Regions from separate parts of the Homo sapiens genome. Here region 1 is linked to region 2. Evidence: fine-mapped expression QTL. A gene starts in region 2. The other region holds a variant in brackets. All regions are shown on one strand. Distances are from middle to middle.

The links.
Region 1: its variant is fine-mapped to the expression of SHTN1 in whole blood (INTERVAL, PIP above 0.99).

What each region holds. Positions count from the first base shown.
Region 1 is chr10:116,949,563-116,961,173 of GRCh38, reverse strand. SHTN1 (shootin 1) reads left to right here. Exons shown (of 17, transcript NM_001127211.3): 4 at 944-1,038; 5 at 6,964-7,132; 6 at 9,168-9,265. Among named protein-coding and RNA genes, the nearest start is that of SHTN1, 50 kb to the left of the region's middle. The variant G/A (reference allele first, on the strand shown) is at 5,319.
Region 2 is chr10:116,999,069-117,010,679 of GRCh38, reverse strand. It overlaps SHTN1 (shootin 1), which reads left to right and starts at 5,493. Exons shown (of 17, transcript NM_001127211.3): 1 at 5,493-5,658. The coding sequence starts at 5,601. RefSeq lists silencers at 5,317-5,396, 5,627-5,736, 5,608-5,902 and an enhancer at 5,717-6,410.

The DNA of each region.
Region 1 (11,611 bases), 50 kb after region 2:
TTGCCTAACTTTGTTGGGTTTCACATTTGGGTGTCCTTTAATTTTTTTTTTTTTAAGCCAAACAAATAGCAATAAGTAATGTCTACATTTAGGGTTGAGATTCTGAGAGTTTTCATTTAACTAGAAATATGGGTGGAAGGAATTGGCATTTTTCTTTCTTGATCTTCAAAATATAACTCAAGTTCTAAATCACTTTATACCTGTAAATCTCAATTTACATGCACCAGCTGTCAAAAAATCTAAAAAATACAATTTTTCGAGCATTGGTGACATATCAAGTAAAATTTTATTTTTCTTCTAATGCTTCTGATAGCCTATGATTCAGGAAGTAATTTATTAGCATCTGCTTTATAACCATATAGTACATAAATCTTACTGCTATACTTTTCTGCCTGAGAGTTACTTATGAAATAGCAGTAACTACTTTGTAGCTAATAGAGACAAATGTTGCAGTACTTAGCCAAGTCGCCACATCACTACTCCAGTCATAAGATCAATTTAAGATTTATTTTTCTTTTATTTTTTGTTAATTTTTCTTATTAGAGCCATGTGTTATACACTGCTGAGAAAAAGAAGTCATGCTGTCACTCCTCTTTATTTATGAAATATTCTTTTGTTTAAACTAGCACATATGTCTATGGATACATATATAGTTGCATAGAAAATAGACTTGTAAAAAAATCTAAATAGCGCTCTTAAAATGTACATAATAAAATGTATGTATGTGAAATGAATGTATTTTGTTGTGTTCTTGTTTCTTTCTACATTCAAATATTAGCTCAGATTTAATCAGGGCAGCTTCTCAAAAACCTTTTTTCAGTGATAGCTAAAGGTCTGGCTAGCCAAAGAATTGAAGTATTCTTAATCATGGGACGATGCGTGGGCTCCTGGAATAGCTGACTAATCTTTGAATGCTGAGATTTTTTTTCCCCCTCATTCCTAGTTTCTCACATGGTCATAGAGGAAGTTAATTTCATGCAGAACCATCTTGAAATAGAGAAGACTTGTCGAGAAAGTGCTGAAGCTTTGGCAACAAAGGTGAGACTTCAAATGAAGGAATTTTACCTGAGCTTTTAAATTTCAACTTGCTTTTCTAAGCAGTGGCTTCTATCTGGTTTTGCTTTTCTACTTCTCTAATCGATTATCTACTCTGATGATGAGGGAAATGTTAAAAGGCCTCAGAATCCTGGAATATGATTATGTAAATATTCACCTTAATGCAAAGGTTATTCCAAATTGTAAAAGGAGCATTTGTATGTGAGTATTTCAGCATTTGTGCTTTTTGCCTGTGAAAATGTGGAAAAAATGGTCCCAGAGTAGTGTTAAAGGGGACTTTGCAAATGTCCATGCATTTGGTTAAAATGCTAACCAAGTTTAAAACTAACCTGGTGTGACATAAAAGAGCAGTGAATGTCTCATATTTGAATCAGATGAAAAAGTCACCCTGAAGCCGTGCATTTCAGGTGATTATTTATGAAAGCAAAGCGAGGGCATGCTGAAGGTGACCTCCAGTGTTCCACTGATTGCCTCTTGCTGATGAATTTACCAAGTGTGTAATTTTCTACATTCTATCTCATCAGAAGTACATTATTATTAAAGAATGTTTTTTTTATCTCTGTCTTATGTATTTTGGGTTGGGTAAAATGCATCTGAACCACTTCATCAGAAAGTGGATTACAGCAATTTTCAACCAAATTTCATTAGTAATACTGGTTGTGTTTCTTTTCCCTCCCCTCCATCACCCACCTCCGAAAATTTCTTTGGATGTGACTGAAATCCTACTCTCAATAAATACATAAATAAATGTAATTTGTATGCATTAACAGTGTGCTTCCTAGAGGTATTTGCTTAATTGTTTGCATAACAACACTACATTAGAATTCATAAGATATTTAATCAGGACCTAACTAAGAATATAAATTTGGGTATGTAACTTCTCTCCTGTTATTCATCTGAAGAATACACAGCAATACACTTTAAAAACACTTTTTAAAAAATGATAACATGGGTATTCTCACATCATTTTTACTCTGCGGCACATTCCTAGAGTTCACTAGTCCGTAATGTTGTGTGAATTCTATTTTCATTTTTGAATTTCTTTCTTTGGAATAAGTAGAGAAAAAGTACATTTGGAGCCTGCTAGCTGCTCTGAATCTTCTAGTGTCTAAGGATATACTCTCTATTTTTTCTTGTTATTAACAAGTATTCCTGTTGTCATAGCACATCCAGAGTGAGGATACTGGCTACCTTTCAGGATTGGCAGAGTTTATGGAAGGCACTGGTTTGTGGGACAGTATATACAGGTTTTGTTCCTGGTTATGTAATTTTGGGCATATGTGATTTTGGACAAGTTAATTTTGTTCTCTGGAGTGTAGTATCTCATCTTAAATGACATGATGGACTAGAGTTAGGACTGGAGTTAATAATTTATTTGCATATGGCCCCTTTTAAAAAATTACTTTATTCTGTCTCCCCTTTTATTTAATAGGTGTTTTTGGGCAAGAGAACTCACCTCTCTGAGCTACAGTTGTCTTGCTCTAAATGCCAGGATGGACCATGGTTGGCTTCATCATAATACCCCAGATCCATTGGCTCTAGATGTGTGGCCCAGGCATGTGCATGTAGAAAAGCTGCCTGGTGACTGTTATATTCATTGCTCGTTACGAACCAGTGTTACCTAATCTCTAAGCTCATTTTTACAATTAAGTCTTAATAATAGGATCCTTACCTAACACTGTTTGTTGCCTGTTCTTTAAAAACCCTTTTTTAAAATGAACATATAGTTTATTTTTGAAGATATAGTATGAACTCATGGGGCCTAGAAAAAAATTTAAAAAATGGATTAAATCAAATACTATAAATGTGCTTGTTTGTTGTGAAAGACTGCTTTGAATGCAAAATGTGGAAACTTCATTATATGTGTGACTTCATTCTGATTTAAGTATCAATTGTCATTTTTGAAAGGAGGCTTTCAAAAATGCTCATTTTTTTTCCTGAGAGCAAAGTTTCTATAAATTCTTATTTTTCTAAATTTTTGCCATCAAATTAATGACAAATGGAATGTTTAATTCTGATGATGCAGCTTGACCTCGTAATTTTCTTTTTTTTCTTTTTGAAATGGAGTCCTGCTCTGTTGTCCAGGCTGGAGTGCCGTGATGCCATCTTGGCTCACTGCAACCTCCACCTCCCAGATTCAAGCAATTCTCCTGCCTCAGTCTCCCGAGTAGCTGGGATTACAGGCATGTGCCACCACACCCAGTTAATTTCTGTGTTTTTAGTAGAGACAGTGTTTCACTGTGTTGACCAGGCTGGTCTCAAACTCCTGACCTCAGGTGACCTGCCCGCCTTAGCCTCCCAAAGTGCTGGGATTACAGGCGTGAGCCACTGCGCCCAGTTCCTCATATTTTCTTAGAAGCAAGTATGGATACTTTGCTTTGCTAAAATGTGTAGATTAAACTGATAAATGTGGACCAGTTATTTAAGTCATATGATCCAAAGCCATTAAACTTGCTTGTTTTGTACCTTTAAATAGCCACTAAACTGGACAATATAAAAACCCTATTTACATTTGAATATAATAGTAGGTTCTGTTACTGTAGGGTTATAAAAGATATATTTTTGGCTGGGCACGGTGGCTCACGCCTGTAATCCCAGCACTTTGGGAGGCTGAGGTGGGCAGATCACCTGAGGTCAGGAGATTGAGACCATCCTGGCAAACATGGTGAAACCCCGTCTCTACTAAAAATGCAAAGCTTAGCTGGGCGTGGTGGTGTGTGCCTGTAATCGCAGTTACTCGGGAGGCTGAGGCAGGAGAATCGCTTGAACCAGGGAGTCAGAGGTTGCAGTGAGCTGAAATCACGCAGCTCTACTCCAACCTGGTGACAGAGAGACTCCATCTCAAAAAAAAAAAAAAAAAAGTAAAAAGATATATTTTTGCCTTAGACATAGAGGGGTTCCAAACAACAAGTAGCATGCAATTAACCTATAGCTTGATGAATAGCTACAATGAAATTACTTAGCCAAAATTTGTGAATTCAGAATTCTCAAAAATGTTCAAATAGTATGCACATAAGACCTCATGTCTAGGCCGGGTGTGGTGGCTCACTCCTGTAATCCCAGTGCTTTGGAAGGACAAGGTGGGAGGGTCACTTGAGCTCAGGAGTTTGAGACTTTGAGGCTGTGGTGAGCTATGATCATACCACTGCACTCTAACCTGGGTGACAGAGCAAGAACCCATCTCCAAAAAAACAAAACAAAAAAAACCCTCATATATATAAATCTTACATTTCTTCTTTCAAAATGCGAAAATGGGGTTTCAGAGAAGGATTATGAAATTTTCTGATTGGCTTTTTTTTCTTGAGCTGGTGACTTTGTTAAGTAGAGTAATTGTATTGCAGACAAACTGGTGGATTTTGGTGCCTGGTTTGATAGGGGCATTAAACCCTTTTGAGGGCAGAACTGTTAGCTATGATGTTGCTAAGGTATTATTGTAGTGGTTGTCTAAGAAGTAATATATTAAGCACTAGATGACAGAAACTAGTAGTTTCTTGAGTATCCTGGAGGAAGGAGAAAATGCCTAAATGAATACTTTGAAGAAAACTAGCTGATAAATGATTTCCAAAGGATAATTAGACACAAACTAAACCTCTTCTTACTATGAATAACTAACACTGAAGTTTTACTGTGTGGCAGTTACTATATTAAATACTTTATATATAATGTCTCATTTAGTCATCATATTGTGGGATACAGACTATCTTAATTCTTAGTTTACTGATGAGAAAACTGAAACATAAGGATTAGGTTAGTTGTAGAGGCAGAGATGGAATTTTATTGCAGAGCTGGGTTGTATACTAAAGCAATGCGTTTCTTTACATCAATGATTCTTAGTGTTGATGTACATTAGAATCACCTGGGAAACTGAAAAAGGGCTATGCTGGGCTTCACTGCCAGAGATTTGGGTATGGCATAGCGCCTAAGCATTGAGGTTTTTAAAAAGCTCTCCAGAGATTCTGATGGCCAGAGTTGAGAACCATTAGTTTAAATATTAGGATACAGAACCAGAAATTAAGTCTTAAATGTCTTCACTTTTTCCTTAAATTGATGTTTTCTTCTGACATTCCTAAAAGATGGGATAGTTTGAGAATTGACAAGTGAGGGTCCTTGAGCTTCGTGTGCCATGCTGTAGCATTCATGGTTTAAAGAACCCACAACAGTTTTTATCTGAATTTTCCAACTTAAGGAAGAGGTGTTGGGAAATGATGGGCCTCATCTTTTATCTTGATCTCCTAATGTAATGTGTGCAGACAGAAGCTAGA[G/A]TTGGAGACTGGGACTGAGGATAAAGGGTTGTGTCTGATTTCCTGAATAGAGCTTGCCAGTCTTCCAGGAAGAATCCATGGAAGAGTTCATAACCATTTCTTAGAGATTCTTCCTGATTCTCCAAAGAGGTCAGACAAACCTCTCGTGCTCCAGACCATGCCACTTTAGGTTCCATATTATTGGGGTAGAAATCAGATCTCCCAGATTAAAGTGGGCTGGGCTTTCTCTATGAGAAACCCTGAGGAACCCTAATTATGATCACAAATGAAAGAGCAAAGTCAGACCAGTGCTATGCTAAATATCTTATTCTAGTGTCAGGTTTACAGTGAGGAAAGGTAGTTATCTTTCCAATGAACTATGTTCATTTGTTTCCAATATCAATTATTAAATTCAGAGCATGTCTTCCTGGTCAAGGGCTCTAGTAAAGGAAATGTATTTGCATTTCTATAACTTACATTTTATAGTAGGGAAAATAATCTACTGATTACTTTGATGTGCGCAAATTAAGGAAAACTGTTTATTTTTTAGTCTTGGGAAGAGAAAATATGAGCAAAACCATATTGTACTTCTGTGGACATTGGAACATCCTTAGTCTTTGTGTGTGCTTTGTCCTAAATTTTCTTGTACATAAACACATTAGCTAAAGAAGGTGATAATAGTTGAATAACTGAAGTTAAAAAACCAACTCATTTCCCTGTCCGGGAATAAAAAATACATTAACAAAGTAGGATTCCTTTTTTTTTTTTTTTTTTTTGCTGTGAAGTAGAACTCTTTTAATAGAGATAGTAGAAACAACATCTTGAACTAGTTTAAACAAGAAAAGAAAATGATGTGGGATCTGTTAGAAATATCAGAGACTTCCATAGAATCTCTGAGACAGGAGCAGTTTAGGAATGGACTGGAGTCTGGGGCTTGAGTCTGGTGGGAAACCCTTTCTCTGTTGCTTTTCTCTTCCTTTCTCTACACATCAGCTTCAGTTTTAGCTTTTCTAAAAACTACCTTCCTCTTTTCCTTGATCCTATAGTGGAATGTGGTTACCAGCAGCTCCTGTCCAGGCACATGGAAAGAAACTCATTGCTCTGTTCCAGCCTCCAAATTTCTAGCGAGGGGATCTGACTGGTCACACTTGGGTCATGTGTTTAATCCCTGGACTAATTCGCTGTGGCCAAAGGGATGGGGTGTGCTTGGGAGAGCATGGCACTCCCATTGAAATCATGTGGAACAATGGAAAGTGGTAATGTCCAGAAAAGAGAGATGTTAGGCAAACAGACATTTAAAAGGTGTTCTCAGCACCACAGCACGCAGAAGATTTGCTTGAAATAAAGTGCCTTTTTTAAGACTATTAATGACTATAAATCAGAATTTTATTTAATCTGTACTGGTGTTTTATCTTAGTTCCTTATATTTCTCATCAGTTACAACTAGCATTTCCACTTGCTGCTGGCTGTAATCCAGACATCAGATCTTGGTTAAAGAAATAAATTTAATATAAAACCTTATTTAATGAATCCACTAATTGTTATGTCCTGCTGTGAGTGTTGATGAATATGTAAGACAAAAATATACTTAATTTGTCTATTGTTTAAAAATCCAAGATACTCATTTGGCTGCTTTTAAAATAACTGTTTTTATATTTTGTCTTAGCTAAATAAAGAAAATAAAACGTTGAAAAGAATCAGCATGTTGTACATGGCCAAGCTGGGACCAGATGTAATAACTGAAGAGATAAACATTGATGATGAAGATTCGACTACAGACACAGACGGTGCCGCCGAGACTTGTGTCTCAGTACAGTGTCAGAAGCAAATTAAAGGTAGAACTCTTTGCTTAATTATTGAGCATATTTTTTACCCCGTTATGATAGTGCTTCTGAACCCTGACTGCACATCAGAATCATGTGGGAAGCTTTCAAAATACTGATGCCTAGGCAGGGCGTGGTGGCTCACGCCTGTAATCCTAGCACTTTGGGAGGCCAAGGCGGGTGGATCACCTGAGGTCAGGAGTTGGAGACCAACTTGGCCAACCTGGTGAAACCCGGTCTCTACTAAAAAATACAAAAATTAGCTGGGCGTGGTGGCAGGTGCCTGTAATCCCAGCTACTTGGGAGGCTGAGGCGGGAGAATCACTTGAACCCAGGAGGCAGAGGTTGCAGTGAGCCGAGATTGCGCCGTTGCACTCCAGCCTGAGCGACAGAGCGAGACTCTGTCTCAAAAAAAAAAAAAAAAAAAAAACAAAACACAAAACTGATGCCTGGGTCCTACCCTATCCAAAATTTTGCTACACCATAGGCCAATTAAATCAGAATTTTGGATGGGGTAGGACCTAGGCATCAGTATTTTGAAAGCTTCCCACATCATTTATTTATATCTCCAAATCACCATAGGGTATATAACAATTGTGCTTTATGAGTTACTTTCTTGTTTGGAATTAAGCACTTTTGAAAGTGTCTCAATGGAAGCAGCCAGTTATACTATAACCTTAAGGATATGTACTATATGTCAAGATATTTTTGTTAAATGAAAGAAACAATGAATAAAAATATATTTAGCGACACCCCTTTTTGTTGGTTAACAAGTAGTGTTGTAAGGCAAGATCATATGATACATCTACTGAATGCACATTCATTTTACTCATACACATGTTTATTTAAAGATGTAGGAAAGCAGTTCTGGCTCAGTAACTATTGGAACATTTTAATTTAGTACACAGGTCAAAAGCAATATTCATTTATTTGTTTGGTAGATAAAATTTCAACTGGAAGTATAAAGAAGAAAGGATGTTACAGACACCATCTTTACCTACTCTTCAACCCCTCAAGCTAACACAAAATAGAATTCATGTTGGTAGGGAGGGAGAGGAAGTTTAAAGGAGTTCCCTTTGCTCATTATTCTCCTTTCTGTTCGAGCTTGAACAATATGGTTTCATGTTCTTCTTTCTGGATTAGCCAGCAAATGGAGAAAGTGATTCAGAAATAAGTCTCTGAGAACTTCTCCAAGCTGAGTTTATGTAAAAAGTTTGATTTAATTTACAAATAACCACATAACATATTCTTTATTGCACTTGGAAAACAGTAAGAAATTAAAGGCAGTTAAAACCTAAGTGACAAAACAGTAGGCCAGAATATGAATTTGAGTAGTCTGTGCTAATCTATGTGTATTTTCAAACATTTGAGTGACAGAAGTAACTTTAACACCAGAAGCTTTTGCGCTTACAGTTGATAATACTCTCATTCTAGTGACACACTTTTCATTGAATCCTAATAATAAAACTATGAAATAAATTTAAAAACAAAACACCCATGACTCTAGAGAGAAAATTACTAGAATTAACCCTTCTTTCAAATAGTTATATTTTGAATCAGTTCAAATAATGTCTAAGGACTATAAATTGGCAGCAAGTCAGGATCTTTTACTTCTAATCAAAATATCCAAATTATTAACATCCCAATTGTTTATATTTTATTGTGATAACAGCCCATGGCATTATGAAATAAAAAAGAAATTAGTACTACACCTTAATTTGTTTTGCTGAAAACTTAAAAAATTTTACTTCCAAAATGCTAGATAGTTTTCTAGAATGTGGTTTTGATAGAATGCAAAGAAAACATGATCTGGTACATTTAATGTAGTGAGGTTGCCTGATATAAAATTGTTAATATCCATGGCTATTTTGGGGAGGGCCACGCAAATGAGATTCTCATTGTCCTTTGGTTCTTCATTTCTTTTTAATTGTTAAATAATCTTGACCATAAGCTGCACATGGACTGGCATTTTCAATTCTTTTGACCAGATTGATTTCTTATTTTAAAAATAAGTTTATTTATATATTTTTTTTCTTTAAAAATGCAGAACTTCGAGATCAAATTGTATCTGTTCAGGAGGAAAAGAAGATTTTAGCCATTGAGCTGGAAAATCTCAAGAGCAAACTCGTAGAAGTAATTGAAGAAGTATGTATCTCAGGCCTGAAAGGCAAGGGCTTTAGCATTTTCAAGGTGTTTGGGGATTTGCTAAGTTAAGAACTTAATATTATAAGCCAATTTCTAACATGAGAACCATGTACCAATTTTAATCTTCTCTCCTCAATTTCAGACATAAAAAAAGGTAGAGGAAATAAGATGATGAAGATTCATGTACCCACTAGCTAGCTTAATAAATAAAATTCTGAAATAGCATGGACATGTTTCCTGTTGTTCCCCCAGTTTTTGCTATGTAAGGCAAATTTGTAAGAATAGTAGCTACTATTTCAAGTCATATATTTTATTGCTGCTGGTAGAGAAAGAAGAGCATGTTTTGCTTTTCCGGTGAATGACTGGTTCAATTGGGAAGGACTGTCCCTCTGTGCATCTCCAACACAGGCATTTATGATAGGTGGTAGGATGGGTTCAAGTGGTTGTTTACAGAATCTTTCTTTTCTGGTGTTTTGTTTTGTTTGAGACAAGACCTAACTCTGTCACACTCAGGCTGGAGTGCAGTGGCATGATCACAGCTCACTGCCGCCTCAACCTCCCAGGCTCAAATGATCCTCCTGCCTCAGCCTCCCAAATAGCTGAGAGTACAGGCATGCGTCACCACGCCTGCCTGATTTTTAAAAATTTTTATAGAGATGTGGGTTCCTGTATTTCCCAGGCTTACCTTGAACTCCTGGACTTGAATGATCTTCCCACCTTGGCCTCCCAAAGTGCTGGGACCACCAATGCAAGCCGCTGCCCTGGCCTCTTTTTCCTTTTGAACTGTCTTTCAGAACAAGACCCTCACAATTGCCTTTTATTTGCACGAGGCTTCAAGGATTTGCCTTCACAGTCTTGATTCTGGATTTAATTTGTATCAGTGGTTCTTAGATTCTGTAGCCCAGCACTTCCCAACTGATGTGCCAACTGCAGCTTGATAAAGTGACTTATGAGCATGCCAACGTATTGATCCTGTCAGTGAGCAGCCTCATCCAGTTACCTCAGTTTGCACACACATATTGTCATTTTCTTGGAGGCCATGATGTAAAAAAGGTTGGAAAGCAGTGTCTGCCAACTTCCCAGCCTGAGCTCCTTTTATTATTGTGGCAAAACATTGTAACGAATGGGAAGAAGGAAGATGATATTTTGGAAAGGACCTTACCGTTGGACAATGTGTACCAGTTACTAATTTAAACCAAAACCAAAAATAAAGCCTACACTAAAAGAACCAGTTAATAGATTATCTGGAGGTGCTGATGGATTCAGAGCCACTTTCAGGACCATTATCTTTGTTTCTTAGTGTGCTCTGTTCCTCAGTTGTGATTATTTACTGATGATTCTCTCGCTTCCCACTTAGAGGTATTATTGGAAGACAATTCAACAATTATTTTTATTATGGCTATTTCAGACATCTGAGAAGGCATAATGAACAAAATAATGGGGCTGAGTTCAGTGGCTCACGCCTGTAATCCTAGCACTTTGGGAGGCCGAGGCAGGAGGATCACTTGAGCCCAGGAGTTGGAGATCAGCAAGACCTCCTAGCAAGACCTCGTCTCTCAAAAAAATTTTTAAAAATATTAGCCAGGCATGGTGGCATGTGCCTGTAGTCCCAGCTACTCAGAGGGCTGAGGTGGGAGGATTGCTTGAACCCAGGAGTTCCAGGCTGCAATGAGCTATGATCGTATTACCACCCTCCAGCCTGAGTGACAGACTGAGACCCTGTCTCTAAAAAAATTATTTTTAATGAACATCCATATACCTGCTACCCAACTTAATTCACAGAATATTAGCATGGTGATGAAAGCCCTGGTGTAACTCTTTCTGGTTGCATACTCCTTGCTCCCTGCCCAGTTTCCCTAAACAACTGTTATTCTGAACTTGGTGTTTATCATGTCAGTGCATATATTTACATGTTCACTACAATACATAGTATTTTGAGTGTTTTTAAATATTATAAACATGCCTGCTTTCTAAATTCAATATATTTGAGATTTATCTTCTACCTTGATATATGTAGCTTTACTTTATGTTCTTTTTTTTTAAAAAAACTTTTCTATAGTATTCTCTTTCGTTGATAGACATCAAAAGTTACTTCAGAAATTTAAATTTTTGTGGGAGTATTTATATGTGTTTTATTTAAGCCAAGAGTCATCAGAGTTCAAAGTCTTATTTTAAAAGTTCATGTTCATCTTACTTAAGTCAAAAATAATCAGCATTTTTATTTTATTGTATTTTATTTAAATTATTATACTTTAAGTTCTAGGGCACATGTGCACAATGTGCAGGTTTGTTACATATGTATACATGTGCCATGTTGGTGTGCTGCACCCATTAACTTGTCATTTA
Region 2 (11,611 bases):
GAGGATTTTTGCAACCATATTCATAAGAGAAATTGGTGTGTACATTTCTTTTCTTTGTGATATCCTTATCTGGCTTTGGTATCACAGAAATGCTGGCCTCATAGAATGAGTTAGGAAGTGTTCTCTCCTTTTTTGTGTTTTAGAAAAGTTTGAGAAAGACTGGTGTTAATTCTTTAAATGTTTGATAGAATTCACCAGGAAAGACATCTGGGCCTGAACTTATTTTCATTGAAGGGTGTCTTTCTTTTCTTTTCTTTTCTTTTTTTAATACTTTCTGAATTACTCTACTTATAATAGTTCTGCTGAAATTTTCTTTTTCAGTTAGTTTAGGTGACTTGTGTGTTTCTGGGAATTTGTCCATTTCTTCTAGGTTATTTAATTTGTTGACATATAATTGTTCTTATTATTCTCTTAGAATCCTTTTTATTTCTGAATCATTGGTATTACTGTCCCCATTTTAATATCTGATTTTCATATTTCTTTTTTTTCTTCGTTAATTTAGGGAAAGGATTGTCAATTTTGATACTTTCAAAGAAATAGCTTTTTATTAATTCTATTATTTTTCTATTGTCTTTTATTTTATCTCCACTCTAATCTTCATTATTTTATTCCTTCTGCTAACTTTAGGTTTATTTTGCTTGTCTATTTTCTCAAGGTGTACAGTTACCTTATTGATTTTGTATCTTTCTTTTATAATGTAGTAATTAGAACTATAAATTTCTCTCTGAGCACTGTCTTCACGGTATTCCATAAGTTTTTTTTTTCTTTTCCTTTTTTTTGAGACAGTCTCACTCTGTCGCCCAGGCTGGAGTGCAGTGGCGCGATCTCGGCTCATTGCAAGCTCCGCCTTCCGGGTTCATGCCATTCTCCTGCCTCAGCCTCCCAGTAGCTGGGACTACAGGCGCCCGCCACCACGCCCGGCTAATTTTTTGTATTTTTAGTAGAGACGGGGTTTCACAGTGTTAGCCAGGATGGTCTCAATCTCCTGACCTCGTGATCTGCCCGTCTCGGCCTCCCAAAGTGCTGGGATTACGGGCTTGAGCCACCGTGCCCAGCTTGTATATATGTTTATAGTAATTATATATTCTTACCGAATCAACCCTTTTGTGAATATAGACTTTTGTTTATTGTAACAGTTTTTGACTTAAAGTCTGTTTTGTCTGATATTAATATAACCACCCCAACTCTCTTTTGGTTACTAATTAAATTTTTTCCTACCATTTTGCTTTAAATCTATTGTTGTCTTTGGATCTAAAATAAATATTTTGTAGACATCATATAGTTAGATCATACTTTTTTTTGCATCCTGCCAGTGTTTGCCTTTTGGAGAGTTTAAGCCATCTTCATTTAAAGTTACAGTTAATAAGAAATGACTTATTTCTGCAATTTTGCTATGTATTATCTATATGTCTTATAGCTCTTTTGCTCTTCATTTGCTTCATTATTGCCTTATTTTATACTTAGTTTTTAAAAAAATGTGTATGTTTTTGGTAATCATTTTGACTTCTTTCTCCTTTCCTTTTGTGCATATTTGGTTGATATTTTCTTTTCTTTTCTTTTTTTTGAGACAGAATTTTGCTCTTGTTGCCCAGGCTGGAGTGCAATGGCACGATCTCGGCTCATTGCAACCTCCTCCTCCTGAGTTCAAGTGATTCTCCTGCCTCAGCCTCCTGAGTAGCTGGGATTACAGGCATGTGCCACCACGCCCAGCTTATTTTTTATATTTTTAATAGAGATTGGGTTTCTTCATATTGGTCAGGCTGGTCTCAAACTCCTGACCTCCGGTGATCCACCCGCCCTGGCCTCCCAGAGTACTGGGATTACAGGCGTGAGCCACAGCGCCCGGCCAATTCTATAGTTTTGAGTATATTCAGAGAATTGTACAACCATTACCACAATTAATTTTAGAAAATTTGTATTACCCCAACAATTAACCACACACCTATCAGCAGCCATTCCCTGTTTTCTCCCAGACCTCCCCTACTTTCACCCCACCTCAGTAGATACTCACCAATCAACTTTCTCCCTCTATGGATTTGCCTGTTGTGATCATTTTATACAAGTGCAATCATACAATATCTGGTCTTTTCTGATCAAGTTTTCACTGAGTATAATGTTTTCAAATTTCATCTGTGTTGTACCATATATCAGTACTTTATTTTTATTACCAAATAATATTCCAATATTGCCATTTTCATATGATAATTAACATTACATTAAATAGCTCTGTACATAAGCCTTTTAGGATAGATTCCCTGATATAGAATTAGTGGATCAAAGACAGTGAACCTTCTTCTCCTCATTGTATTTCAATCTTATTTATCTGTATACCTCAAAAGATGACATATGTGATTTTACTTTAATTACCTGAAAAATTAAATAAAGATTAAAGAGAAACTCCTTCTTGACCACTGCACTTTCACACTCCAACCCCCACACCTTGGTCCTGTTCCCCTACTTTCTATCCCTAGAGACAGCCATTATCCTGAGTTTGGCACATATTCTTCCAATTCATTTTTTAAAAGTCTGTCCTTTATCTCTATGTATATATTTGTATATATATATGTAAACACACACATTTTTAAGGGTTTTAAATGACCTGTTATTTGGAGGTCAATAGTAACTCCAACGTGATGCCTGCAACATAAATCACTATGTATATTATTATTATTGAGATGGAGTCTCGCTCTGTCACCCAGGCTGGAGTGCAGTGGCATGATCTCGGCTCACTGCAACCTTCGCCTCTCGGGTTCAAGTGATTCTCCTGCCTCAGCCTCCCGAGTAGCTGGGACTACAGGTGCCCGCCACCACACCCAGCTTTTTTTATTTTTAGTAGAGACAGGGTTTCACCGTGTTAGCCAGGATGGTCTCAATCTCCTGACCTCGTGATCTGCCCGCCTCGGCCTCCCATAGCCATCACTCTGTATATTATTAAACGGAACAAAAACTAATTTATCACTTCTATCCTTTCCATCAATATTCATATCATATAAATAAACAATAGTGTAATGGGAGAACTGAATCCCAATAAGGACTCTAATAGCCCTCCTAATAATTCATACCATGTCCTCAAGTGAATGCCATATTGTATTTCAGGAGTTTTTTTTTTTTTTTTTTTTTTTTTTGAGATGGAGTCTCACTCTGTCACCCAGGCTGCAGTGCAGTGGCAGAATCTCAGCTCAGGAGCCTTTTCTAATTTTAAGGAGGATAAATGGGATTAATTGCAAGAGGCCGCAGATTTAGTATGGAACCAAAAGTTTGATTATAGATTTGATAATTAACTCATTCTTAAACTCCAGAAATACTATCTAACTACTGTATAATTGGAGTAGACAAATCAGCCATTAAAAAAAAATGGAACTTTGTGAACTAAGCCAAATATTTAATGGGCACTCTGCTTGTATTTGGTAGAGTGAGAGAGAATGAGTCAGGATGACTCATCAGGTTTAACAGGTTTCCCAACTGCTGGACAAAAGCTAAATGTCCATTATTTTTCATTAAAATCTCCCGGATTTTTTTATTATTATCTCCTGGGGATCTTCATGGCAGCTATCTGCAACTATCTTGAATTATCTTACGCATACCTAGGGAAAGGGCTGAATAATACAATCCCATATCAAAATTATTTTTAAACTTTAAACATTTTAATACACTGTATTAAAAAATACTATGCTGCCCTTTTAGATCATTCTACCCCTAAATCACTCATGCTAAAGTACTATATTGCCATTTTAGAGAAAGAGAAAGCAGTGCTACCATTTTTTTTTTCAAAATTTTAGTTAGCATGTAGTGAGTATCAGAAAGACACTAGTTACAGGATTTACCCATATCTCAACCTCACTCTACAACTATCATGGAGAAATGAACACAAGAAATGGAGCTGGGCACTTCCATAAAACAGCAATTGAGGAATGAGCAGCACTGTGCTGTTGCTGTACCCAAACTAAGAGCTTAGAGGTAGTGAGAAAAACCAAGCTGTGCAATAAGTCTAATTCAGTTTGGACTTATCTCCCATGCTTAATGATCAGTGTAAAAGAACTGCAACCTTCAGCTTATAGTCAGCAACCACAACCCCTTTCTCACAGACCTGTAATTTTTTTTTTTTTTTTTTTTTGAGACGGAGTCTCACTCTGTCACCCAGGCTGGAGTGCAGTGGCGCGATCTCGGCTCACTGCAAGCTCCGCCTCCCGGGTTCACGCCATTCTCCTGCCTCAGCTTCCCGAGTAGGTGGGACTACAGGCGCCTGCCACCACGCCCGGCTAATTTTTTGTATTTTTAGTAGAGACGGGGTTTCACCGTGTTAGCCAGGATGGTCTCGATCTCCTGACCTCGTGATCTGCCCGCCTTGGCCTCCCAAAGTGCTGGGATTACAGGCGTGAGCCACTGTGCCCGGCCACAGACCTGTAATCTTTATTAAAAACAAAAAAACAAAAAAAAAACAAAAAAAAACTGCATTATAAATTCTGGACTTGGTGTTTTGTTAATCTTCCTCTATTAAATCCTTACAACTCTTCCTTGAGAGTAGGTATCACTATTCTTCCTATTCTTCAGATGAAGTTCAAAGATGCAGGAGACTTGACCAAAGGTTAGCTCGCAACTAGGGGTTGGGGAGAAGCACCTTTGAAACAATGCAGACCTGCCACTTCTCTCCTGGGCATGGTCTAACACAGACATGAGTTCAAATAGTTCAGAGGGCAGTGAACTGGGACAAACGCTTGGCTTAACTGCCAGCCTCTGCTGCCCGGGGGCTGCGTGACCTTCGGCATTCGGACTGCAGTGGCACCCTCTCTAAAGGGAAGGTCATCCCGCCACCAACCAGATGATCTGCAAGGGCCCTCCAGGCCCCACCATCCACGTGCAGCAGGGTCCACGTTCTGACCACCTGGCAAACCTGGTGCGATGGGGGAAAGCTAGCCAGGGCCCTCCTTCACTCACGGCATGGTCATTTAAGTAGCTGGGCGGCCTGATTCGATCCTTGTCTCCTCTTCAAGGTGCAAAATGTACCACCCTGGGCCCGCCCCTGTGGGCAGCTAGGTTTTGCAACCGCGCCCCCAGAGTCTACTGCGGGAAAACTAGGGAAGAAGCCCAGGCGTTCATGGCTCATTGCGTCCCGCTCTACCTCTGTGGTTCTTTGGGAGCGACCCCCGGGAAGCGTCCAAAGTGGAGTTCCCACACACGCTGCGAACCCACAGCCGGTTTTCTCTGAACTCGCGTCCCTGAGTCCGGGAGGTGGAGGCGGAGAAAAGGGTGCGGAGCGACCCCACGCAGGGCCGCCCCCCCTCCCACCAGCGCGTCCTGCCGCGCCGGCAGCCACAGGCTGGCATAGCGGCTGCCGACCCGCCCTCGTTCCTCCACCCCCTGAACGGGACTGCTGGGCCCGCCCCGCCCCGCCTGCAGGTGAAGCGGCCGCAGCCGCCGAGTAGGTGCGTGGGGATGATCTCACTCGCGCGCTCCGCGCCAGGAGGAGGAGGAGCGGGAGCGGATCCAACTTCCGGGTAGTGGAGCCGCAAGCCACCGGCATCTTGCTTTTTCTTCCCCCTCCTCCTGTGTGCCCCGCGCCGCTCCCTCTTTCCCTTTTATTCCCGGCCCCACCCGCCAAAATGAACAGCTCGGACGAAGAGAAGCAGCTGCAGCTCATTACCAGTCTGAAGGAGCAAGGTAGGCAGCACGCGGGCGCCAGGTGTGGGCAGCCGCGGCCCGTGGGCGGGGACGGCCCCAGGGCGCTGGGGCCAGGGCAGTTGGAAGCCGGGCGGGAGACGTGGCGGCCGCCGTGGTCACCGCAGTAGCTCCGTCACCCGCAGAGAAGCGTCCTCCGTGGCCGGCGCGCCTGGGAAAGCTCTGGACCGAGGATAACGCGGAGTGTCGGGGCTAGTCAGGCCCCGCAGCTCGAGACCCGCTGCCCGCTGGTTGCGTTTGCTGGCGATCGGGGGCTGGGGGAAGGGACGAGGATTCAGTGCGGACGAGGTTGCACAGTGCCACCTTCCTTGCCGGAGAAGCGGGTGGGGCAGGATATTTTGGCTGCTTTGGGCGGCTCAGCTAGCTTGGCCCCACCCTTACACATTTGTTGGCGCTGGGTGGCCTGTAGGGCTGTTTCACACCCTTCCCAGCTTTTCGTTTGGATTCGGTCTAGTTCCTCTTTCCTTGCCCAGCTGGGATTTTCAGGCCATAATTTTTTTTTTAATCACTTCTCAATTTTAGCAGTTTATTAGTCAGCAAGGTCAACATCCTGCCAGTGTTGAGCTTTCAGAATTAACAGGGTTGACGCTGGGCGAAGGAGAGCCAGGCCATGCGCACGCATTTCTGTACTGCTTGGTAACTGGGGATTATCCTTTAATAAAGACCTGCTTCAGTCAATCATTTTTTTCATCAGTTACCACACTTCTGAACCAAACCAGATCAACAACCAAATGCTAACCTATCACATTTAAACACTTATCATTATTACCCTGACCAAAGGGTGGTCTGCGAATGTGGGTCAAGACAGGGAGGAACCAGCCGGGTGCGGTGGCTCACGCCTGTAATCTCAGCAATTTGGGAGGCCGAGGCAGGTGGATCACCTAAGGTCAGGAGTTCGAGACCAGCCTAACCAACATGGAGAACCCCTATCTCTACTAAAAATACAAAATTAGCCGGGCGTGGTGGTGCATGCCTGTAATCCCAGCTACCCGGGAGGCTGAGGCAGGAGAATCGCCAGGAGGCGGAGGTTGCGGTGAGCCAAGATGGCGCCGTTGCACTCCAGCCTGGGCAACAAGAACGAAACTCCATCTCCAAAAAAAAATAATAATAATAAATAATAAAGAAATAAAGGGAGGAACCATACAGATTTAAAGGAAGTAAAAATGTGTAGGAACATGTACTTTTCTGAATGTCTTGCTGACAAGACCATGTAATGGAAGGATCCCTGCTCTGTGGCAAAACCTGGTATTTAGTTGCAGCTCTTTCACTTCTCTTGGCCCAGCTCACCTGCTCTGTGAACTTGGAGGAGTCTCTTTCCTTCCGTGGATCTTCTGGTCAATCAAGGCCGACCTGACTAAAGGCGAGGGTGAAACTGGAGGACTTTCTGAGGTCCTGTCCAGTACTCTTACCTGTTGTTGCGTAAAACCACAGACACCGTTGGGAAGTGCTCCCGGATTCCTCTGAAGCCACACTCTGGCAAACAAATTTCAACATTACTGTTTACTGTGTGACCCTGGGGAAATTATTTAACCTCTGAAATGGACATAACACATTCTTCTGTGATATCCAGCATCTAGAAAGTGCTGGATAAATGTTAGTCTCTTTGGCCTTCCCAGCACCTTTACCTGGCATCCTAGATTAGCCTGAGGTCATAAAGTCACAAGCATCAGTGAATTTAGTGGGTGGACAGAATGCCTTTATCTGAAGTTTCTCAAGTGTTTTAGCGAGGGACTGGATTCTACTGACTGGTATTTTATATTTAATACACCTTCGCCCAACCCAAAACATTAAAACTTGATTCATATTCTAGATTTGTGGAGCTTTCATTATAGGTAATATCTGTCAGTGGATATCAGATCTTCTTATGGTTGGTCAGTTTTCGAATAATGATAAACATAAAAAAATTTTCCCTTTCATTTCTTGTATAATCAAGGGTCGATTAACAATGTAGATAATCTGCAAATTGCTTATATTTGATTTCGGAACACATTCTCCATTCCTATGTTGGGTTTGAGGCCTGACAAAAAGGATTTCTATATTTGTGGCTCTTTCTCCTATTGCATTGTATTGGAAAATAAACAAATCCTTGGCATTGGTATTTTTAGAGGATATATTTCCTTGATTAAGTGCATATGAAAGGTAATAGAACAGTTAGATATTCAAAGTTGTGTTTCTTAAAAGGTACACTTTTGGGGATAGTGAGTCTAGTTACAAAGGTGTTGGGATTTTTTCAGCCCACAGTGTGATTTTTATACATTTCAAAACCAGGTAGTTTGCTTGTCATTGGATCACAGACTGTGGAAACAATTTACTTCAAAAGTGTTCAGTTACTGTTTGACCTGTAGAACTAATTGGGAAGCTAGGGATTTGGAAGAACAGGTAACTGGGTCTTTGAGCATTTAACAGTACATACTATGATCAATTTTGTAAGCTGATGGTTGCATGGTTTATTTTTGAAAATAGTAATTTTTACTACCTGTTACTACCTTTTTACTCACAATGTTAATATTCTGAGTGATAATTCCACTACCCCTATTTAGTGTGAGCAAGAAGAACCACTATTTATCAAATATGTTATTTTCCCTTAATAATGCTGAGTAAACATATTTATTCATTCCTTCAACAAATACTTATCAAGTACCACCATATGTCAGGTCCATGTGGTAGGCACTAGGGGTGTAAATAGTGAACTACACAGTCCTTGTCACCAAATTAATTTTCTAGAAGAGAAGACAGGTACTATTCAAGTTATCATATGAATAAATGTACAATTACTTTTTTATTCTAGGATAGATTCTTAGAAGAAATGGAATTGTTGGATTAGAGGGCACGGACATTTACTTTTGCTAGACATTGCAAAAGTGCCCTCCAAAATGATTATACCAGTTCAGATATCCTTCAGCAGTACCCATTTCCCCACACATTGGTCAACTCTGGCTAATAGCAATCTTTATTCATTTGATGGCCTGACAAGTTTTTGAATTTTTGCCAATCTAATGGGCAGAATGTTACCTTTTAAGATTTGCATTGCTCTGGTTATTAGTGATGTTTGAAATCTTTTTACATGGCCATTGGCCATTTAGGTTTCATCATATGGGTCCTTCCTTAGTGATTTTTTTTTAAACTGATACATGAGACTTGTACATATTTATAGAAGACATGGGGTATTTTGTTACATGCTTAGAATGCATAATGATCAAGTCAGGGTATTTGGGATATCCATTACCTCCAGTATTTATCATTTCAATGAGTTGAGAACATTTCAAGTCCTCTCTTCTATCTCTTTTGAAATATATAATACATTGTTGTTAACTGTAGTCACCCTACTTTGCTATCAAAATGTTAAAACTTACTCCTTGTATCTAACTATGTTTGAACCCATTAAACAATCTCTCTTCATTTTGCCCTGCCTTAGTAAGTTTTAAGTCTAAAACTTGAACCAGTTCCCCAGGAGAGTGTTCAGAAAGGAGATTCCTGTCTACTCTAAACCACAAAGCTGACAGCAGCCTTCCCTAACGTGAAGCCTTTAGTGGTGTGGTGAATAAGGTTGCTTTTGACAAAAGTTGTGAAATGTAATGACGGAGTCTGTCATAATATGAACAATCTCTAATTTATACTTACCATTCCCTAAGCTCTATGTCTTATAAATCACACCCACTTCTGAATTACTTCAAAACATTTTATGTTCCCTCCTAGTGAATGGTATAATTAGCTATATTATGTCTTTCCAGAAAGTTATATTATGTCCCTTTAAAAAAAATTAGCCAGTGTGTGATTGCTTATGTTCAAGCAGATGTTGAGGTAATGAGGTAATTCTCCTTTTGTCTTTTTTGGGGCTTTATTTTATTGGACTGATTGACATCTTTAATGCACCGAGAAATGGCAACTTTGGATACTATTTCCGAGGCATATTTCCTAGCTACTAAAGTGGATATTTCCCTTACAAAACATCATACAATTTGCTCCCCCTCCGGAATTCAGTGGGAAAATGATAGACTTAGTTCAGCATTTGTTTAAGGTGCATGATTTTCTGTATAATTCATTCAGCCCACATGCATTGAATATTCATAGCCAGGCACTGTGCTAGGCATCAGAGAGATAGAGCTGAATAAGACCTTGCCTCTGCTGGTGAGGAGTTCCTGGTCTAGAGATAGTGCTAGGCATGTAAATTCCAGGAGGAGTGTCTGATTGGCCTAGTTTGGCCAATCTCATGTATTCAAATACTTTGGCCACGGGAGGGCAGGATACTTTAATTGGCAGCCCCTGCAAAGATTGGAGGAATAGTCCAAAACAGAATGGGGTGCACTACCATGAGGATGCTGACCGGGCAGACACAGACAACACATGTCTGCTAAACTGTTCAGTGTAGTAATGCCATGTCATTTCCAAGTTGATGAAATTTTGAAGAGAGATGGCTATTTAATAATAAGGACATACATAAGAGGAAAACAACCACCACCACCCCAATAATGGGCAATTTTTGGGCTAACAGTATTTAAAATGGATTTCCTATGGTGAGGTAATTGGTTTTAAAGCAATTTTAAACCTCTTTTCACCTTTAGAGTTAGTATCGTTTTCCCCAAGATTATTGAGATGATACTTAAGTTCACATGGAAATCTAGTCAAGCTTATTCTTAGAGCAAGTTAGTAATTAAAAGATGCATCCAGTATTCCATTGGCTTCTAGGCCAGGAAATAACTGGAGCATTATTTTGACAAAACAGTCTGAAACTATTGCCTACCACAATGACCACGTCAGTCTGGGAAAACGGAAGCATTGACAATCTTGGGTGCATATGAGATCAGCCAGTAGAAAGCTGTTTGGAATTAAATGTTGCCTTGTTTTCAAGTGCAAACTTGGTTTTACATCAGTATTTTTCAAAGTGTGGTACAAGGGCCAGCTGCATCTGAATCACCAGGTACTTATCAACAATGCATTTTCCTCTGAAAGTTAGGGAGTGGTTGCTGAAGAACAACAGTTTGGCAACCCCCCATGAGATGAACATGCAGTGTGGGCTAAGGAACTATGTCTTCTAGTCAGAATTTCACTATTTCCTTAATATTATTTATTTATTTATGTATTTATTTATTTGAGACAGAGTCTCACTCTGTCACCCAGGCTGGAGTGCAATGGCGTGGTCTCGGCTCACTGCAACCTCCGCCTCCCAGGTTCAAGCAATTCTTCCGCCTCAGCCTCCCAAGTAGCTGGGACTACAGGCATGTGCCACCACACCCGGCTAATTTTTGTATTTTTAGTAGAGATGGGGTTTCACTATGTTGGTCAGGCTGGTCTCGAACTCCTGACCTTGTGATCCACCCGCCTAGGCCTCCCAAAGTGCTGGGATTACAGGCGTGAGCCACCGCACCCAGCTGTGAACCTTTTTTAAAATAAATGCAAAAATAAACACATGCTCATAGAAAACAAGTGTGTAAAGTGAAAAGTACAATTAACTATTCTATCTGACCCATTGTTTCTCAATCTTTATTTCATTATCACTCTCCTAAGGAAACTTTTTAGGCGTTTTATGCACTGTGACTCTTTGAAGGGCCATAAGCCATTGTAATATCCAAGATCTTTTCTCTTATCTCCTTGAGGATGAAATCACTACATTGACAATGCATGCTATGACCCCATTCCCATTTCCCAAAGTTAACTACTGTTAACCTTTTGTTTTCTTTCCTTCCAGAAATTGTGTTTGTATGTGCATATGTATTTATCATGTAATATGTAATTTTTTATATTAGTACATGTAGCGTTGTCATTAAAAATTGATTAATGTTCCAATGTACAGACGTACCACAATGTATTTAATGTCCTCTGGATGGACATTTCTATCTTTCTTTCCTTGTTTTTGCTATTACAAATAATGCTTCTGGGCTGGTTGTGTTGGCTCACGCGTATAATCCCAGCACTTTGGGAGGCCAAGGTAGGAGGA